Linked DNA regions of Homo sapiens: region 1 is linked to region 2. Evidence: fine-mapped expression QTL. Tissue or cell type: whole blood. Region 2 holds a variant in brackets; the other region holds the start of a gene. All regions are shown on one strand. Distances are between the middles of the regions.

Region 1 (4,161 bases), 67 kb before region 2:
GGAAATAGCAGTTGTTCATTGAAATCTGTTTGCTGCCACCAAGAGGTACCTACCCAGGTAATAAAGGCTTTCTCTTGAAGTGGTGACAGTCCAATCCTTAAAAGGCTTTGTTGGCCCCCGGCAGAGGTGGACAGCCTCAATGATAAATAACTTTGCAAGATGAGTGAGAGGGACTGGGTGTGTATAGCAACTGCCACATCTCCACAGCAGCTGAGAGCCTCAGGTAACCATGGCGGGGACAATTAGGAGAGTGTGAAGTATCCCCATCAACTCATTTAATATCACCATAGCAGATTTGCAGAAGTAGCTGTGCCTGGTCCTTTCTAATTCTGCAGATTTCTTTTACCCATTGTGATGGGACCTCTCTTTATCCATGTACATTAACCCCCACAGATTGGCTTGACCATCTCTGCATTTAATATTCAAAAATATTTATTATCTTCTATCCTATTTAGGGTATAAACGCTTAGCCATGCAGAGTTTACAGATTAAGGAGACAAATAGTAATCAAGAGTCACAGGAACAAATGTAAAACTGCTATTATGGCAGTCGCTACAAAGAGGAGATATATATATTTATATGTATGACATAAGATATGATATTGAGATTCCACCTTGTCAGCAGAAGAGAGGTCTTGGTGGGGTATGTAAATCTGTATACATGTGTTAATCAATGTCTGCAATGGATGACACTCTAAGTAAAGGGTATAGAGTGAGGAAAGGAAAGGACCTAGAAACATTGCTTAGCCAGAGGAGGATAAACAGACAAAGAAAGAATAGCCAGAAAGTTGGAGGGAAACCAGAAGAGAGCTGTGCCCTAGCAGCCAAGCAAGGAGAGTCCAGTTAGATCAAGAGTTAAGACTAAGAAGAGCATAGAATGGAACATTGTGTCTCTAGAGATCAACAGGATGTCTATATTGCAGACCCAGTGATGTGGTAGGGCACACCTGGATTCAAATGTGGCTGCTCCCTTATTAGGTCTGTGGCTTTTAGTAAAAGGCTGTCTAGCTTCAGATTCTGCATCTGTAAAATAGGGATAATATCTCCCTGATAGAGTTATTGTAGGGTTGAGATGAATTAGCATACGCAATGTGCCTAGCACTTTGCAGATCCTCAGTAAAGACTGATTCTTCTCTCCCAATACAACTCTGGCTATTTATTAATTTGTTTTGCTTGTCACTCTCCTTGATTTCTTAGCATTGGTGTTGGTGACCTACCTGTTAGGATCATCACAGGTCCTGTCCCACATCACTCTGGGTGTCAGCAAGTTGTGAGTGACAAATCAATGATCTGGACACTATAGATAGTTAGGTGCCCACCTGTATCTCTTGATATGCAGAGAGACACAGCACTAGGAACTGGATAAGGATACAATATGCCCTTCTTCATCATACCAAGTTTTTCCCTTCCAGGGAAATAAACTCCAGTTACCAAAATGAATACCCAATCTTGTCTTGACCATCCTTCTGCACTATTTCCAATTGTATAACTCTCTAATGCAAAATATTAGTAATAAATGACTGAACATAATTTAGGATTTAAAATTTTTTTTTCAGAGGCAGCATTGGCCTTCCTAGATTTTTTGGATTGCTAGAAGGAGCCACTACCTGCTCCTTTCCTTCATTTTTCTCTATTAGATGTAGTGAATGTCCCCTACTCATTCAGAACTCTTGCTCTGCGCACCACCTCTGACAGTGTTTACAGTAACTGTGGTTTTGGCAAATGCAATAACTACCCATTGGACTACTCAATGCTTGCCTTAAACTAAACCCCAGAAAAGGCTGGACACCGTTATGGAAAGACTGACATATTTCTATTGCTGCTAACAGGGGATACCTAACTTTTAAATATGTTTAAGAATTAACCTTATATTTCTAATTAGCACACGTTTGTTATTGACGGTGGCCATGTTTTCCGAAGCAAACATAACATTTAATAAGCAAAAGAGTATTTTTAGGAACAGGCAACTATATTAAATGAGAATTGTTACAGAAACTACAAGGCTTGGGGTCGTGCAGCTACTAAACGTGTACTATTTAAATTATAACAGACCTATGATCTCATTCTACTTTCAGAATGAAAACGGTAAACATTCTGACATGGTAATTGGGGATAGCAGGAGCTGATGGAAAGAAGATCGGGATTGTTAGCATTTCTCTATCCGTCTAGCACGCCAGACAGGGCCAGTCTCTCCGGCTGGGGGCACTGCGTGGGCAACAGCGACCGTGAGGGCGCGCGTCTGCGCTGGGGCCTCGCGCGCGTTCCACGATGAAGACTGCGCGTTTGAGTGTCCCTGGCAACGCCACGCTTCCGCCTTCTGGAAGCCTGCACTCCAGCTTCGAGTGTGAGAGACCCGTCCCGGTGGGAGGGACCTGGGCTGGGGGGGACGGTAGGGGAACAAGGGCGTGGGACTGGGGAAGCTTCTGGGAACATTTGCTCTAGGTATTCAGCTAAACTAAGAAAAATTGGTCCAAGGCTCGGCACAAAAGGATCTTCTCATTCCAGTCCTTTCGCCCACGCAGGGAACGATGCCTCTGGAGGTGGTGGTGGAGCTGCAGATCCGGGCGGTAAGAGATCGATGAACTCCCCCTCCTTAACCTCAAGTCGGACTCTAAATAGTCTCAGGTGGTTTTCAACAACCCTCCCCCACATCCCCCACTTACCACAAACACATCATTATCTTCTGGGACAGATCGCACCTTTGTCTTTTTCTCCATATTGGTTTTCCCTGACTTCCTAACCTTTAATTCAGCTCCACCTGTTCCCACTTTTTTTTTTTTCTGTTCTAAAGCTAACATGTTTCTTATCTTTATCATGAATTTTTAATTTCTTTTCAAACAACCCTGCATTAAGTCCAGGTAGAATTTATTTTCTTCTCCTGGATAAAGATTTGTGAAAGGATTTTCAACTTCTTTAAATAACCAGGGAATAATTTTAAAAAGCTCCATCACTTCCTGATTATTTGCCAACTCTATGAACCAATCAGATATTTTCTATGATATTTCCCCTTAGTGATAGCTCTGGCTTGCTAATTCCAAAAGGGAAATCAATCAATCACTATTTCGTAATTACCAAATCCTTCCTAAGTGAAGTGCTGTGGCAGAGTGACTCCATGGTTTCTACTTGGGGGTCTGTCACTCCCTCTTATTTCAGTTTCCATTTTCCAATCCTTCCATGTAGTTAGTAACAGAATATCATGCCGCTTTTCCTCTAGGGGCTTTTCTACTGGCTATGATTACAAGCACAGTGCTAACAGGAAATTGTCATGGAATCTGGTTGTCTTCCATACAATTGGCAAATGGTGTGGTTTCATCATACATGTGGGTGTGAAAGGTGATCAACATTTCCTGGATTTGTCCCACTTTGCTGACAGCAAATAGGGCTAGACCTTATTAGTAGTGCTATACCAGTTTTAAGCTCTAAAAATTGTGCAGGAAGAAGGAACTCTTGAGAAGCTAAGTGATAAATCTGTCTCCCTCCTCATCAAGGCAAAAATTAAGCAAGTTTTCATCTCACTTCATTCACCATTATTTGTTAATTTTATTTTGATTTTTAAAAGGCATTATTCAGTGTACAATTAACAAAGAAATCAGTTTTCTACTCTACTGTACTTAGGATGCTTCAAAAACATCAGGTGAAATGATCTATGCTTTAAGAGCCAGAAAACTCAGGCCTCAGCAACTAAAACAGAGAATTCCAAAATTGTAATTACAAATCAGATGGTAAGCCTAATTTCATGCCCCTAATATTCAGATTTGTGGACACTGCAAGAGGAAATATCATTTGCTTCCAAATATCTGGCTTGAATATTGCTGCAGTTAAAGGATCTCGCTAAGGTTAAACAACAAACCCAAACCACTTAGAGCTTCACAGTTTAGCTGCTTTAGCAAGTGAAGAGGTAGTCGGTATTCAGGATGCTGTGGGAATGCAAATGATTTGATTTTGAGGCATGGCTGTTCCTTTTTCACTATGCCCCTCACTCTGAACAAGCTCATGCTTTCACTCAATCAAAACCTACTTATCACAGCCGTTCTCCAGGTTCCGAACCTCCGTATGGCAGATCAAAGTCCATAATCATTTCTATTTATAAATGCCAAAATAGTCATTAAGATTATCTGAGGACATCACTTCCATAGGTAATTTAAAGGATTTCTTTTCAGGT
Region 2 (4,356 bases):
TGGAGGGTCATTTTAGTGAAGCTTTAGTGATTGTGAAAAACCCAAGTGACTCTGGCTAGTCTTAAGCAAACGGGGCATTTATTTGAAAGATGCTGAGCATCCATCTCAGTGAGTCCAGGAAAGATCCAAACAGGCAAGATCAAATAGCTAGAACAGGACAGCCAGAGCCACTCCTGTGGGTTGGGAGGACAGACCCCAGGCAGGAGGCATCCCCCACACACAACCCAGTGGCTCCCACTACGTGTCCCAGTCCCGGCTTTTCTTGAGGACTCTCTTCTAATGGCAGCACCAATTCCTGTCCCTCCCCTTCTCCATATCTGTTTCACTGCCAGGTCCTGGCTCCCCAGCGATCTCGAGATCTCAGGGAGATGAAAAAGTAGATTCTTACCACAAAAAGGTCAGGGATTCTTGAGCCAAAAACAATGAGTCCCATTGTCTGACCACGTAGAGGGAGAGAATGGGTGGAAGAAATGGGTTGAAGGGGTTGGAATACATCTATTTCTGGATCTTTTGGGACTTGGTACTTTTGGTATAAACAGAGTATCCCTTGTATATTTAAAATTGGTGAATTTTACCACACAAAAACCAAACATCCAAAAAACCAAACAAAAAAAAAAACCTCCCGTAAAGAAACCCCTCAGATTATCCCTAGTTCTCTTGGAAGGCATAATTGCCGTGAAATCCCGGCCCCCAGTGTGCAGTGCCAAATTACAGAGCAAGACTCCATCAAAAAGAAAGGAAAGAAAGGAAGAAAGAAGGGAGTGAGGGAGGGAAGGAAGGAAGGGAGGAAGGAGGGAAGGGAAGGAAGGAAGGAAATTTGTTCAGTAGAATATAGTTAATTGGAACACGTTTAACAGCTCAACTGAATAACACCTATTTTGGCACATTTACTATGTAGCAATGCTAACTCTTCACTATAATAGTAAGAGGTAGATACTCTGTCATCATCCTGATATTTTACAAAGACGTCAAGTAAATTGTCCAAGGTCACACAGATGCTCACTGGGTTATTCTGTTGTGGGAATCTGGGGAAAAAGCTCAGAGACTAAGTGATCCCAAGGCATAGCTACATGCCAAGATTGGGGTAGTATGACATTATCTTTTTCTCCTTACTTGTATTGATTGTTTGCCTTTTTCTCAATACCACATGTAGAATGTGATGTTTCAAATTTTGCAGGGGAAATTAATGAAAGCTTAAGGAGAATCATGAAGAGCTCACTCACTGAGACAATTGAAGCATCCTTAAAGAAATGAACACTTTTTGTTGTCTGTGTTGAGTCACTGATGTCTAATCCCCTTTAAACCAAACCCTGTACTCAGTCTTTTGTGCCCAGGTAAGAGTTGTTGATTAAAGTGTTTGCTGTTTGGGGGCTAACATTTTCTTGTCAAGCTGGAAAATTTGTGTTTTTGCATGTTTGTTTTGAACATGAAAGAGAAAGCGCTGTAGTTGGGTGGCAGGTGCTTATCTGAACACTTCCCCTCTCTCTCTCTCTGGCTCTCTCTGGCTCTCTCTGTCTCTCTCTCTCAAATTAATTATATATGAGCTAGAGGAAGTTGCTATTCACAGGAATAACCTGATAAATCCTCCAGGAAAGACTATCAACCTGACTTTCTCTTTTCGGTAGATCCGTTTTTGTTGTTGTTTGTTTATTTCTTAGTGTTAGGCTTGATTTACGTGAAGTCCACTAAAAACCTTGGAAAAGAGAGCATTAC[G/A]TCTGGGTAGTTCAGATCTTGTTTTAGATGTTGAATGTCTGTGATAAATTTGTAAGAGGAGGCTGGCTCCTCTGGAGCGTAGTTTAAACTGCTCCTTCTGTTTCCTACTCCTTCGTTCCAGCAATTCTTTGTAAATTTAGATGAGGAACAAAACCTTCCTCAAATATTTCTCCAAAAGAACTACACATTAAGTAAATAGGTTCTACAGATAGGACTGCCAATGCCAGGTTTTAAAGTTAGTTAGGAAGGTGCATCTATGAAATGCTTACACAGTGTGAGGGAGCAGGAATAGGAAGGGGCTGGGATAAAGGGAGACTAGAGGCACATTTGTCTTCATTGATACAGACCCAGAGAAGAGGGGCCTGAAAATGGAAACTTATTTCCCTCCTTCATAGTGTAAGCATAGCATTTTCCTCTACCAGCCCTACTATAGTGTGAATGTTTGTGTCCCCTCAACATTTGTATGTTGAAATCCTAACCTCTAAGGAAATGGGGCCTTTTGGGAGGTGATGAGGTTGTGAGGGTGGACCCCTCATAAATGAGATTAGTGCCCTATAAATAGGCTCAAGGGAGCTCGTTTGCCCCTTCCACTGGCGAGGAGACAGCGAGAAGGCGCCATCTCTGACCCAGGAAGAGGGCCCTCACCAGATTCTGCATCTGCCAACATTCTGATCTTGGACTTCCCAGCTTCCAGAACTGTGAGAAATGAATTCCTGTAGTTTGTAAGCTACCCAGTTTATGACATTTTGTTATAGCAGCCTGAATAGAGTAAGACACTACCCTAAAACTTGTTCAGTTTTTAGAAGATTCAGTGAGAGCCAAGTTTTCTTTTCTCACTGTAATCATAGGGATTGGTTCATTAGGTAAATTAAGAAAATGAAATTAAAAATTAAAACAGAAAAGGAACTCCAAAAACAAAAACAACAAAACAAAATTCATTTATCCTCTTCTTAGAATTTCAGCCAAATAAAGGTATATCCAAGTTGAACCTCCCAATCTAAAAATCTGAAATCTGAAATGCTCCAAAATCCAAAACTTTTTGAGCACCAATATAACACCATAAGTGAAAAATTCCACATCTGACTGCATGTGGCAGGGTGCAGTCAAATGCATTCGAAACTTTGTTTCATGCTCCAAATTATTTAAAATCATGTATAAAATTACCTTCAGGCTACCTGTATAAAGTGTATATAAAACGTAAATGAATTTCGTGTTTAGACTTGGGTCCTATCCCCTATCCTGAAGATACTTCATTGTGTTTATGTAAATATTCCAAAATACAAAAACAAAAACCAAAACCCAAGTTTAAAATACTTCTGGTCAGTCCCAAGCACTGAAGATAAGGGAGACTCAACCTGTATCACAACCAGCATTCCACCTTGGCAAGGCCAACAGCAAGCTTAAATTACATATGCTAATATGTTCTCAGTCTCTCTGAAACTATGGTTGTCAATTTGTTGTTTTGATGTTACCTCTAAGTAGTCATCAAAAGTAAGAAAATATTGTGTTACATTAAGGTTACGCTATAAGTCTCAGGAGAGGGCTGCTTACGTAAGCAGCTAAAGGAAAGCAGCACTAATGAATTGGTATCCCATTTCAGTTATTGTTAAAATATACACCATGACATTCAATATTCAGTGTTTTTTGAAATGGTTTAAGCATAACTCTTTAATAAGATCTTAAATGCCCATTCTTATTTAAAGTCATTTTTGGTTTTCACACTAAATTACGCTTTTTTTCCCTTTACTTTTGCATCTATTAACTCTATTCCTTAAATTATTATTATTTTTACTTTTGTTTCTCAAGGAGTTATCTCAATTTTGAGGAATCATGCTGGGGCAAGGATTGCAGTTGAAGTATTTTGCTTTTGGAGTGTATAATAGTATGAATAATTTTGTGATGTTTTGGGGTTTGGATTACTTTGGGAAGATCTGTGTCATTAAACATCATAAAAAGAATTCCCATCTGTCTTGCTTCAGTTTATAATTCCTTTCTTGATTTTTATGGTTGCAGATCTGTCAAAGCCTGGAGCATATTTTATGGGCATGTTTCATGGGGTCTTGGTTTGCAGAGGCTCCTAAGAAAATCTCCTTTGTGGAACCTAGGCCCTCCAAACAAAAGCTGCTGTACAATGAGGCCAGTTCTCTGTGGTCACCTGACTGACCCAAAGTTAGCTGAAGCCTGTAGGCCATGAATTATAAAAGAGATTTTTAAAAAATGAGAGTGCAAATGATATGTTTGACATAAAAGAGGTGGCGGGTTTTAGGTGTAATTTGAGAAGACTGATGGGTATGTGTGTGAGTTCAGCCCTAGCACCCAAATGCCAGGCTACTCTCAGTATAGCCAGTACTCCCCTGAGTTGGTCCATCAAAGGAGCCCGCTGGGCTCTCTGGAGGGCAGCCTGAGGAACAGGATATGCTCTGTAGTCCATGCTGTGACCAGAGAACCCACTAGTACCACCGGATGGGACTGCTGTCTTTCTCTGGTTAGGGGACCCCTCCTAGCACTACTTAGCGGACCTGCAGGTCTTAGGGAGACCTCTTCTCTCTTCCCTTGTGCTGGGAACCCTGCCAACAGTGATGAGAGCCCCAACCCTTTGCTCCTTTGGCCTGGGAGCCCCATCCTCCACACTGAATCTAGGGG

The links. PIP is the estimated chance that this variant, and not a neighbour inherited with it, causes the effect.
Region 1: it holds the start of SPATA6L, and the variant in region 2 is fine-mapped to the expression of SPATA6L in whole blood (TOPMed, PIP 0.98).

Annotation. Positions count from the first base shown.
Region 1 is chr9:4,664,617-4,668,777 of GRCh38, reverse strand. SPATA6L (spermatogenesis associated 6 like) reads left to right here and starts at 2,298. Exons shown (of 12, transcript NM_001353486.2): 1 at 2,298-2,566. The coding sequence starts at 2,528. PLPP6 (phospholipid phosphatase 6) reads right to left here. Exons shown (of 1, transcript NM_203453.5): 1 at 3,520-4,161. RefSeq lists silencers at 2,370-2,449, 2,460-2,509.
Region 2 is chr9:4,597,631-4,601,986 of GRCh38, reverse strand. SPATA6L (spermatogenesis associated 6 like) reads left to right here. Exons shown (of 12, transcript NM_001353486.2): 12 at 1,178-3,671. Among named protein-coding and RNA genes, the nearest start is that of PLPP6, 62 kb to the left of the region's middle. The variant G/A (reference allele first, on the strand shown) is at 1,714.